Linked DNA regions of Homo sapiens: region 2 is linked to region 1. A link means that fine-mapping ties the variant in region 1 to the expression of a gene that starts in the linked region. Tissue or cell type: sun-exposed skin. Region 1 holds a variant in brackets; the other region holds the start of a gene. All regions are shown on one strand. Distances are from middle to middle.

Region 1 (5,383 bases):
CCCCCGCCCCCGAGTGGTGTAGCTCTTGTGGCCTCACTTCCAGCGGTTCCCGGGCTCTGGAACAGCTGTGTTTGCAGACTTCCCCGGGAAGGGCGGGTGCACGGCCCCCGCAAGCCTTCGGGGGCCGTGCCAAGGCTTGGAAGGGGTGGTCTTCTGGAGGTAGTGCCTGAGGGTGTAAGTGATAGGCCCTCATCCCCCCGCCCCATTCCGCCCCCAAAGGAGCTCGAGGCCCGGGCCCAGCTGGCAGATCCTGCAGCGAGGCCCTTGCAACATCCCAAAATGGGTGGAAGGAAGATGGGTGCGATTGCAGAAGGGGAGGAAAGGGAAATGTTGGGGGTGTGCCCTCTGCCTGGCTCCTGCTGTCCAGGAGGCATGACTCATTGCCAAGACTGGGGCTTGGCCTAGCCTGTGCTGGGAGGGTGGGTGGTGAGAGGGGGAGCTCGGTGCCCCAGAGCATTGCTTTCCACCACGTGCTCTAATGGGGTGCACTCTGCTGCCTCCTGTCCGCCGGCTTAGGTTGTGATTCTGGGAGGAGACAGAGGGGAGACTATCTGGCTGTGTCTGTGTATGAAGCTTGGGGTGGCTCTTAAAATCCACGATTACAGGAGCTGGCATTATAAAGTGCCCTCTGCTGTGGGTGAGATAAGACAGTTATCAAAAACTGCCATGAAAAGGGGTTTATAAAAAGAAAAATTAAAACCAACGCTGTCTGTGAAGCTCTCTTGAGGTCCAAGGGCTGTTTCTGTTGTGGGATTTCATTTTTACCAAGAGTATTTATCTTGTTTGTTAATCCCCTATTAGGGAGAACTTTAAGCTAAAGAGTCTGGCTGCGTTTAAATCTGGCTGGCCCAAGCTGACTGTGAATACTCAAACTGCCCTTGAACGTGTGTTTGGAGTTTAGGGGGAAGGGGCCTGCAGGTGGTTCCACCCTCCTGCCGGAGGATCTGTCTGGAGCCCCTCGCTTTTCACAAGACCATAAAAGGAATCTTATTAGTGATGTGGAAAAGCAGCAGCCTGGCTGAGGCTCATTTTGGAGAGTAGGGTCAGAGGGATGGCTAACATGAAAACAAGGAGGCTTGCTCCCTCGCTGGCCAAGGAAAAGTGACCTAGAAAAGTGCGTCTGTCCGCTTTTGACACTTGGTCAGAGTCCTCAATGGAAAACGAGCGGAAATAGTGTGGGAGGGTAGGAGAGGCGATTGATTTGCATTTGCTGGTGCTCTTCTGTGGTTTCAGGCCCCACGGGTCACCAACCATGAAATAGACTCTCGGCTTTTCTCGAATGGGGGAAGACCGATGGGGCACCACTGAAAATGTGGTTCTTTTGAAGTTGGGACAAACGCATGTATCACTCATAAACAAGTCTCCACCCTGATGCCCCAGAAAGGCCTGCTGTGAAACATAAGATTTAATTCTCAAGAGAAATTGGAGTTTAGGTGTATTTGTTTTTCTGTATGTGGTTGGAGAAACGGCACAGTCCGTAACTTTCAAGAATGATTCCAGGCTGAGTAGAAACGTAACTGAAACACTTAAGTAGCTGAGCGAGTATTTAACTAGAGGGCACAGCTTCATTTAGTTTGGCAATTAACTATGTCTTTTAAAACTGATTTCCTTGAATGGGAAATAAATGAACTTAGTACAGAATTCAAGAGATAGCAAGAAAAGGATATATGGTTAAAAACAAAACAAAACTCCAAACCACCTTGGGCTCCCAACCCCTAGCAGGCACAATTACCATTTGCATGAGTCCTCCCAAATTTGCTGACGCTGGGTATCAGCAAAGGGTGCAGGGGTAGGTCAGTGTAGAAGGTCATGTAGTTCATGCTTTTTGTTTGGAATTATGACCCCTATCCAAGCAACTGTTCATGTTCTAGAGAGGACGAGGAGGAAACGATTTGGTCAGATATGAAATACAGTCCATGTTCTGGTGTGCATGTGAAAGGCTTTGTAGAGGTGGCCCTTCCTGTCATATATCATATCTGAGTATGTCC[C/T]ACGTGGTGTCCCCTGCCCCGGCTCTGGTCTTGGGGTAGTTTTTCACCACTGGCTTCTAATTCTCATACTGTTGCTGCTCTAAGGGGCTTAACTTGCAGCAACTATCTGGATTAATGATTCTCAAATTGGGGGACCAAGTGATAAGAACCATTATTGTGGGAAGTAATTGGGCTTAACAGGAAATAATTTAGGAATTACCACTTATAAATCACTGAAACGGTTAATCTGTACCTCCCAAAATTAGTGCTAAATCCCAGTAGTGCCTGCTTATTAAAAATACATTAGTGTAATTACCACTACTCATCTCCAAAAGCTTTTTGGGAACTTCAGAACCCCAGTTAGCTGTATTGCTGCATCGGTGGCCCCAGAGTGAAATGAATCTAGAGAAACGTTAGGGGAAGAAATTGGGGTATCTGGCTTATTAGCCTCATATTTAAATTCCATTGATCCTATTAAAAGACTTGCTGAGATCAACTTTTTTTTTTTTTTTTTTTTTTTTTTTTTTTTTTTTTTTTTGGAAAATCCAATGAAACGTGATTCTTCTGTGTGAGGGATGCCAGCTTTGGCCCCCTTCATGCTTCAGGCCTGAATGACCAATTGCCACGATGCTAATCACAGAATGTAATTGACAGGCCCTTACTTTTATGCCTTTTGCTGTCTTTTCCAGTCCCTGAGCTTCTGTAGATATGGTGTGGGCACATGGAGGGCTTAAGGATGGGGTTCTGATTTGACCTGCCTCCTTTCTGCAGCCAGGATTTGCATCCTGCCCGTGTAGTCAGCATGTATACAAAGAAAGAGCATGTGTGTACGTATGTGCTCAGAGCAAGGGACTTTCTGCATGTGGAGAAAACGCCTTTTGCCCTAAGAAGTCTACCTCAAACCAAAGGGATGAAGTGATGTATCTGTGTTGCAACACTGGGCTTGGGGGAAAGTGAAGCTGTGCTTGCTTTGAAAGAGCTGTGCTAAGTATCTGCAGAATAGCTGCTCCAAAAATGGAATCTTTATTCCAGGTACTTGGTTTCTAATTTTTTTTTCTCTTGCAGGTGTAACCTTCTGTGTTTTCTTTCTCCTTGTTGTCTTGTTTCTTAGCAACTTATTCAAACCTCCAGTACTTATAGGAATTTGCAACCCACCAGTTCCACACCCGTAATTCTACAGGGACTTAAGATGTTTTTAGAAAACGGTGAAACTTTGGCGTGGAGGCTCTTGGGGGAGTTCAGTGGGTTAAAAGGAGAGTCAGCAGCAACTTACAGGCATGCAACCTCCCAGAAAATCAGCAATCTAAGTGCTGCTCAAAATCTTCACACCAAATAGTGGTGCCTTTGGGGACCTTTTAGATAGAAGACGTGGAAAGTTTAGCATGGAGAAAAAAGTTACTTAAAAAAAAAAAAACAGTGTCAAGGTAACAAGGAGCCTTCACAGTTCCTGATCTGAAAACAGGAATGTGAACCAGAGGCCTTGGCTGGATTCATATCACCCACTGGCCCCATTGTAGAAGGGCCAGAAGTTGGTCCCAATGTCCGGCTTTCAAGGTTAGTGACAATGTAAGAATGCATGATCTCTGGATGTGCATACAATTAGCGTTGTAATCCATAAATGCAAATACTCCTGCAAATTCTTCCATGGTAAACTTCTGTAAGGCATGTTGCTCTTCCACCTACCCCCATCCTTCAAGCCTAGGATCTAGGCTGCTGAGAGAAGTGACTCTTGGCTTCAGCTTTTAAATATATATATATCTCTCAAAACTTAATCTTTTCTTCCAACTGTTGGAAGATACATTGGGATGAATGGAAAGTGGTGATTCTAAAATGGTGGTGGAAATGGAGGAGGGTCCTGGGTTCAGAAAAATCCCACCTTTACTTTGGTGCATGGCACTGGGTGGCTGTGTTGTGACTTCTTTGCTGATTTCTGATTACCGCATGGACCACAGCAGCCCTGTGACTGCTGTTTTTTTTTTTTTTTTTTTTTTTTATGGTGCCAGTGACATCTACCATTGGTGCAGTGCGTGTGCTGGGAAGAAATTCCGCAAGGTGGCTCCCAGTAGTTAAAGGAGTACATAAATAGTCAAACATGCAGAGTCCTCTACCAGCTCAACCCAGTTTTTATGCACTTTTGGTAAATAAACAGAAAGGCTTCTTGTTCAGGCTTGCTCTGTGTGAACCAGACCGTTGTGCTTGGCTGGCTTCTTGGTATTCTATCTATTAACCTCGCCACCCTTTTGTAACTGGTGCATTTAATTATCAGTGGGATGCTTTTCAAACAGGTAAGGGTAATGATGGGAAAGGGGGTGGGGATGTCTCATTGAGAGTCACAAATCTGGATATGAGCTTTGGGGCCCCTTGGTGAGCCTTTGAGTGGGCTTTGATGAGAAAATCACCCTTTGTAACCAGATCGGACTCTATTGACATGTCAAGCCCTACAGACTTGATTGCTTTCTGTGCCTGAAGTCTTAGCCTAGATGCTATAGGATAGTTGTCCTTTCTTATCTCACTTTCCCAAAACCCACTCGCATTGTGTGCATGAGTACGTGTGCATGCGCCACACATGGACTCCCTGCAACCTTTTCTGCTTAATATGTTTTGTGACTGGAATATTTTATACTCTGGCCACCCAGACACAGGCAGGACAATAGAGTTGGCCGAATTGACTGAAATGAGGATTATGGAGAATAATAGGGCCTCTCCAAAAATAATGCTAACACAGGACAAGCGACAGGAAGCAACAGTTGAGTCAGCAGAGCTCAGGGCCCCTGACGAACCCTGGGAGCCGACTGACTGTGCACAATGGCCGCGTTGGCACGTCGGGCATTCCCAGGATGTGCGTGCCGCCGGCGGGCCTGCCTGTCGCAGCAGCCTGGGGTTTTGGACGCCGCACGCGTGCCGTTTGGATGGCGGTTTATTTGTGTCCGTCAGCTTGGCAGGAGGGGAGGCAGCCGCTTCTCAGGGCTTGGTTTGGCTGTCACTGTTGCCAGGAAAAGGAAGCTCCCGGCTGCCAACACAATTACCTTTGTTTCTTACATCCCCCCTTCTTAATGTGGCAATTAAGTGCTTACCGCTCTGCCCAGTGCCAAGGTAACCGCCATGGAGTGGGACAGGGCAGAGAACACAACCTTGGCACAGCAGCCTAAGTGTGGAGGGCGGGAGGAGGTGCAGGGGCCCCAGCCTTGCTGGGAACCTGGTGGCCCTTGGATGCCTTGGGGCTTTGATGCCAGGACTCTCCTCTAGGTAGAATTCCACAGAAATCTTCCAAAAAGCAATTCCGAAGGCTGACCATTCCTCTTTGATGCCACACCAGAATGGGAACCAGCTGCCAGGTTTCCAGATTTCCTTGGGCTTGGAGCTGGGAAGGGGCTGAAGTGACTCACTTTGCAAATCCAGACTAAAGATCTGTTTGC
Region 2 (5,383 bases), 360 kb before region 1:
TTTATGCTAGGATTTAATCCCAGTATTTAACCCGCAAGAAGATGAAGAAAGTAGTTTTTGAGGAGCATTGTCAGGGCAACTCCAAGAAGATATATTTTGCTAGGATGGTACGCCAAGTGATCCTGGTCTGATTTTGTTTTTCTTGTGAAATGATTTTGCATTTCTTCTTCAGCATCTTCAGCTTTTCATTGAAAGACTAGTTTTGTTTCTTGCTTCATTTTTGTTTATATTTAATCCATGACAGATCTATAAGCAAGAAATATATATGTTACTGATGTTTGTTCATGGAAGCCACTGAGAATCTGAGGTTGTTTGTTACACCGTATTATTGTAGCAAAATCAGATTAATACACTACCTCTGGAAGAAAATAACATTTGCTTGAGTATGAGTATAAGAAAAAGGAGAAAGGGCTGGGCACGGTGGCTCACGCCTGTAATCCCAGCACTTTGGGAGGCTGAGGAGGGCGGATCACCTGAGGTCAGGAGTTCAAGACCAGCCTGACCAATATGGTGAAAGCCCATCTCTACTAAAAATACAAAAATTAACTGGGCGTGGTGGCAGATGCCTGTAATCCCAGCTACTCGGGATGCCGAGACAGAATTGCTTGAACCTGGGAGGCAGAGGTTACAGTGAACAGAGATCGTGCACTGCACTCCAGCCTGGGCAACAAAGCAAGACTCCATCAAAAAGAAAAGAAAAAAGAAAAGAAAAGAAAAGAAAAGAAAAGAAAAGAAAAGAAAAAGGAAAAAGGAGAAGGAAGTCAAAATTTATTCTGAAATATAAAACTGGGTGACTGAGAATGAAAATATCACTTCTATTGTATACTTACGTACTGCCATGTTAAAGACGTGAAAGAAAAGATTCATATCTTTCTTTTATTAATTTTCTATGTATAGTTTTTTTATTTTTATGCATTTATAATAGTAAATAGCAGTACTGTTTTTGGAGGTTTCTGAATATATTGTGGGTCACATACCCTGCAGAGACTAAGATGAAAACCATATATGTTTTCTCCGGGGAAAAAAGATCAACAAATTACCTTTTATAAATCATCTCCTCACAAACCTAATCTGAAAAGAGAGTTAAAAAGGAGATAAAGAGGGAAGGCTTGTGACGATATTCTCCCTACTGAATGTTGGAACTTTCTTTACCTTTCCACATGTCCTCTGTCTGTCTTTAGATTGTGATCAAAGAAGAGTAGGTCTCCTTCTGTATTCTGAACAGGGCTATAAAAAGTGTCTTCATCACAGTTTGAAAAATGCCAACCAAGATCACTGTTTGAGAGATGAGTTAAGATATATAAAGCATTGTATCTAAAGTGAGCAGTGTGTATAAAATGGCACTCATTAATTTTCAAAGCATTGTATCTAAAGTGAGTAGTGTATATATAATGGCACTCCTTAATTTTCAATCTATTCATTAAAAAGTATATCAGAGGAAAAAGAAAAATTAAATTAACTTACTTTCCTCAAAATTGGAATACAGAAAAATATTATTTAATGGAAAAAATGTATTTGATATAAACTTACAGAAGTATGTCCATTCCAGATTAGCAATTATCTCTCCAAGACTACTCATGAAAGGGGCAAATTGGAGCCAGTATTAAAGGTATGATGATTTGTTTCCTTCAACTAATAAGACCCCAGGGCCTCCCACAGGACTCCTTGCAGCCTTCTCCCTCAAACCTTTCAAAACACAGAGTATAATATTAGGCACACCTGAAAGGAACAAAAAAAAACTGAGCCAAAGCAAGATAAAGGGAATATGTATACAAATATCTCAGCAGTTTCCAGGTTGACCCCATCCAACAAGTTTCCACTTGTTCTTTTGACCCTGGGAATCTACTTATAATAATTTTTACTTGAAAGGTGGGAGTTACATTTGAAGCAATATGAGAAAATTCTCAAAGCAGCAAAAATAAAATTGTTCTTTGCCTTGGCCGGCCATAATTACTTCATTGCTATGACATATGACATCATAGTTAGTCCTCAGGCTCGGGGGTGTTTCTAATGAGCTGGAGTTGGAAGGGTCCCAGTGGAATGCAGTGAACCAAAAGACCCACTGTTCTTCCAAATTCCAACATGATATCAGGAGGGAAAACAAAGGGCTCTTCAAGATTCAGAGGTCAACCTGTTCAGCATCGCATCAAAAGGTGGCAATAAGGCAAAAGGAGGTTTCAGGGCATAGGAAAAGGCCACTGTCACCTATTTCTACATCTAATTCAACAACAATGATACTGAATATGAATATTTTCAGTAATTTATGAGACCAAATTTGAGTATTTTGAAAATATTCTGTTAACTTGATATGTTATCACATTGGATCCTTGCCACAGGACTGTGTCCAAGGGAAAATTATTGGTTGCCAGTGCATACATACTATTTTAAATAAATGACTTTGTAATGAAAAATTTAAAACTATACATAGGGAAATAATGAAAACAGTGACAAATATGTTTATCCAGCACATGAGCGAGGTCCTTTTCTGCTCCCTTAGCACAAAGGACCCTCAGAGGTGCAGCCACCTTCCCGGGGGCCCATATGAGCCATTCACCATATACTCCCTTCTGGGAATATGTCTAATGATTTAGCCAATTTATCAGCAAGACAGCCCAGTGGCTAATGCCAGCATCAACTCACCAGAGGTCACAGAAGCTAACAGAAGCCTCTTCCATAGGGCAAAAGTCTTTGAAATGGACATGAGTATCTCTTTCCTAGTCCTGTCACTGGCCCCCAGTGCCCAGCTGGTTTAGGGTACTTAGACAAACTTCTTGCCTTAGAAATCTCCAAACAAAAATGACCAATAGTATTCAGTTTTTTAAAAGACTCACACATTTCAGGACAGACTGATTCAACACATACCCTGCTACAAGAAGGTTGGAGCAAAGAGGAGATATATACTTCCTCTGGACTTCTCAGACATGCTATAAATGTTTTTTGGCAAATCCCAAGATGAGATCACAATTATGGTGGAAGAGTTTAGTACAATTACCTAAAAAATTTTTTTAAAAAGTAGAAAAATATAACTAGAAATATAAAAGATTTGAATAAATAACAGCTTTGACATAATATATCTGAATAAAGACTTTTATAGCCAACAAACATAGACTATATATCATTTTATTGTTATATAGTGAAAAATTTTCAAACACATGAAAGTATAGAGCACAGGATAGTGAAATTTCAATGTGCCCATTAGGTGGCTTCAACAATTATTAATATCATGTAATCCTAATTTTCTTCATTTCTCACCAGTTACTTCTATCCTCCTCATGTTTCTCTCCCTCGTCCTCTTTTTTTCTTATGGAGTAATAGAATATATATTTTTTAAACGCTTGTGGTCGAATGGTTGCAAAACATGGCTCCAATTCTTCACACACCTACACATATCCTTGCTCTTTTCCATGTCACTTTTCAGTGCTGTCTCAACATGAGCAGCATAACCTTCCAACCCCCTGACTCTGAGCACAGATATGCAACTTATTTTAACCCAAACAATATTAGCAGGAGTATCAGAGAACTGAAAATGTGCTTCTGCCTTTTTTTGGTCTCTGCAATCCCATGAGGAAATTCCTAATCTACCTGACTAGAAGTTGAATGTCCTTGTTATCCTAGCTGAGGCCAGCCTAGATCAGCCAAGAGCCACTCAGCTCCCAGACCATCAGACGATCCTAGCCAAAAGCAGCAGAAATTTCCAACCAACCATCCCTGGACTGTGAGTAGTAAGTGCTTATTGTTGCATGCAGCTGATAATTTGTGGTCGTTTCATAGCATTACATAATGGTAGATACATGACACAGAACCTAAGAATTATATGTACTATTTATTTTTTGTCAAAACATAAAAGGAAGCACACAAAAACACCACCCCCCCATACATACACAAAAATATTGGGTAGAAGATAGATAGATAATATTTTAATTACTCAAAAAAAAATCACATAACAAAGTAGATGTTAATATTAAAACAGAAAGTAAGTGAAAGAAGAGAGAACAAAGTAAGAGGTGGTAGTCCTGCCTTTTGAGCTTTGTGCTGGACAGAGTTGCTGGTAGCCTAAATTCAACTCCTGCAGGAACATGTGGCCTTTCACAACCAGAGACAAAAGCTGGGGCCACTGTATGAGTCGGGGTTATATTTAAGGCCGCTGGAGAAGAAAGATTGACTGAGAAAAACAGCCACCACCCCACATACATTTATGTGGTCAACTGATTTTCAGTAAGGGTGCCAAGACAATTCAATAGGGGAAAGGAGTAGTCTTTTCCAAGCAAATGGTGTTGAGGCTACTAGATATCCACCTCAACGAGAATGAAATTGGACTCCTTCCACAAACCATATACAAAAATTTATTCAAAACAAAAGTCAAAATCAAAATTTTTTAGATCAAAAATCTAAATGTAAGATCTAAAACTATAAAACTCTCAGAAGGAAACATTGGTGCCAGGATTTATGACCTTGTGTTAGACAATGATTTCTTGGATATGACACCAAAAGCATAAGCAACCAAAACAAAATAAATAAATTGGACTTCATCAAAATTAAAAACATTTGTGCTTCAAAAGACATCATTCATAAGGTGAAAATAAAACTCACAGAATGGCAGAAAATGTTTCCAAATTTTATATCTGATAAAAGTCCGGTGTCCAGAATAAAAATATCTGGCATAAAGAAAGGTTTAGTTATTATTTCAAATCAACAATAAAATACAACCCTATTTTAAATGGGCAAAAGACTTGAATAGATATTTCTCCAGTGAAGATATAAAATAAGCACATGAAAAGATTCTCAACATCATTAGTCATTAGGGAATGCAAATCAAAACCACAATATGATACATGTTTATACCTACTAGGATAGCTATAATCAAAGATACAGAAAATAACCAGAATTATCTGGGCTGTAGAAAAATTGGAATCCTTATCCATGGTTGGTGGGAATGTAAAATAGTGTGGCCACTTCGGAAAATCTTAAAAAGTTAAACATAAATTTTTAGCCAGGTGCGGTGGCTCAAGTAGACAATCCCAGCATTTTAGGAGGCTGAGGCAGGTGAATGACCTGAGGTCAGGAGTTTGGGACCGGCTTGGCCAACATGGCGAAACCCCATCTCTACTAAAAATACAAAAATTATCCAGGTGTGGTAGCGCACGCCAGTAGTCCCAGCTACTCAGGAGGCTGAGGAAGGAGAATCGCTTGAACTAGGGAGGAGACAGAGGTTCCAGTGAGCTGAGATCGTGACACTGCACTCCAGCCTGGGCGACAAAGCAAGACTCTGTCTCAAAAATAAATAAATAAATAAAAATAAATAAGTAAAATAAAATAAGTTAAACATAAGTTTTCCATACAATCCAACAATTCTACTCCTACGTATGTACCCAAGAGAATTGAA

Alleles and levels. Positions count from the first base shown, and alleles are read on the strand shown. Sizes are in standard deviations (SD) of each study's normalised expression.
As copies of C replace T in region 1, the expression in sun-exposed skin of the gene that starts at base 2,893 in region 2 goes down (moderate effect, 0.59 SD a copy in GTEx).

Evidence for each region. PIP is the estimated chance that this variant, and not a neighbour inherited with it, causes the effect. A credible set is the group of variants that fine-mapping cannot tell apart.
Region 2: LINC02871 starts here. The variant in region 1 is the best candidate, but not a certain one, in a credible set for the expression of LINC02871 in sun-exposed skin (GTEx, PIP 0.56).

The regions. Positions count from the first base shown.
Region 1 is chr20:10,666,670-10,672,052 of GRCh38, reverse strand. All of the region lies in intron 2 of JAG1 (jagged canonical Notch ligand 1), which reads left to right. Among named protein-coding and RNA genes, the nearest start is that of JAG1, 4.6 kb to the left of the region's middle. RefSeq lists silencers at 1,262-1,311, 1,362-1,411. The variant C/T (reference allele first, on the strand shown) is at 1,989.
Region 2 is chr20:11,024,054-11,029,436 of GRCh38, reverse strand. LINC02871 (long intergenic non-protein coding RNA 2871) reads right to left here and starts at 2,893. Exons shown (of 4, transcript NR_146878.1): 1 at 2,863-2,893; 2 at 1,531-1,686; 3 at 1,153-1,275; 4 at 71-246.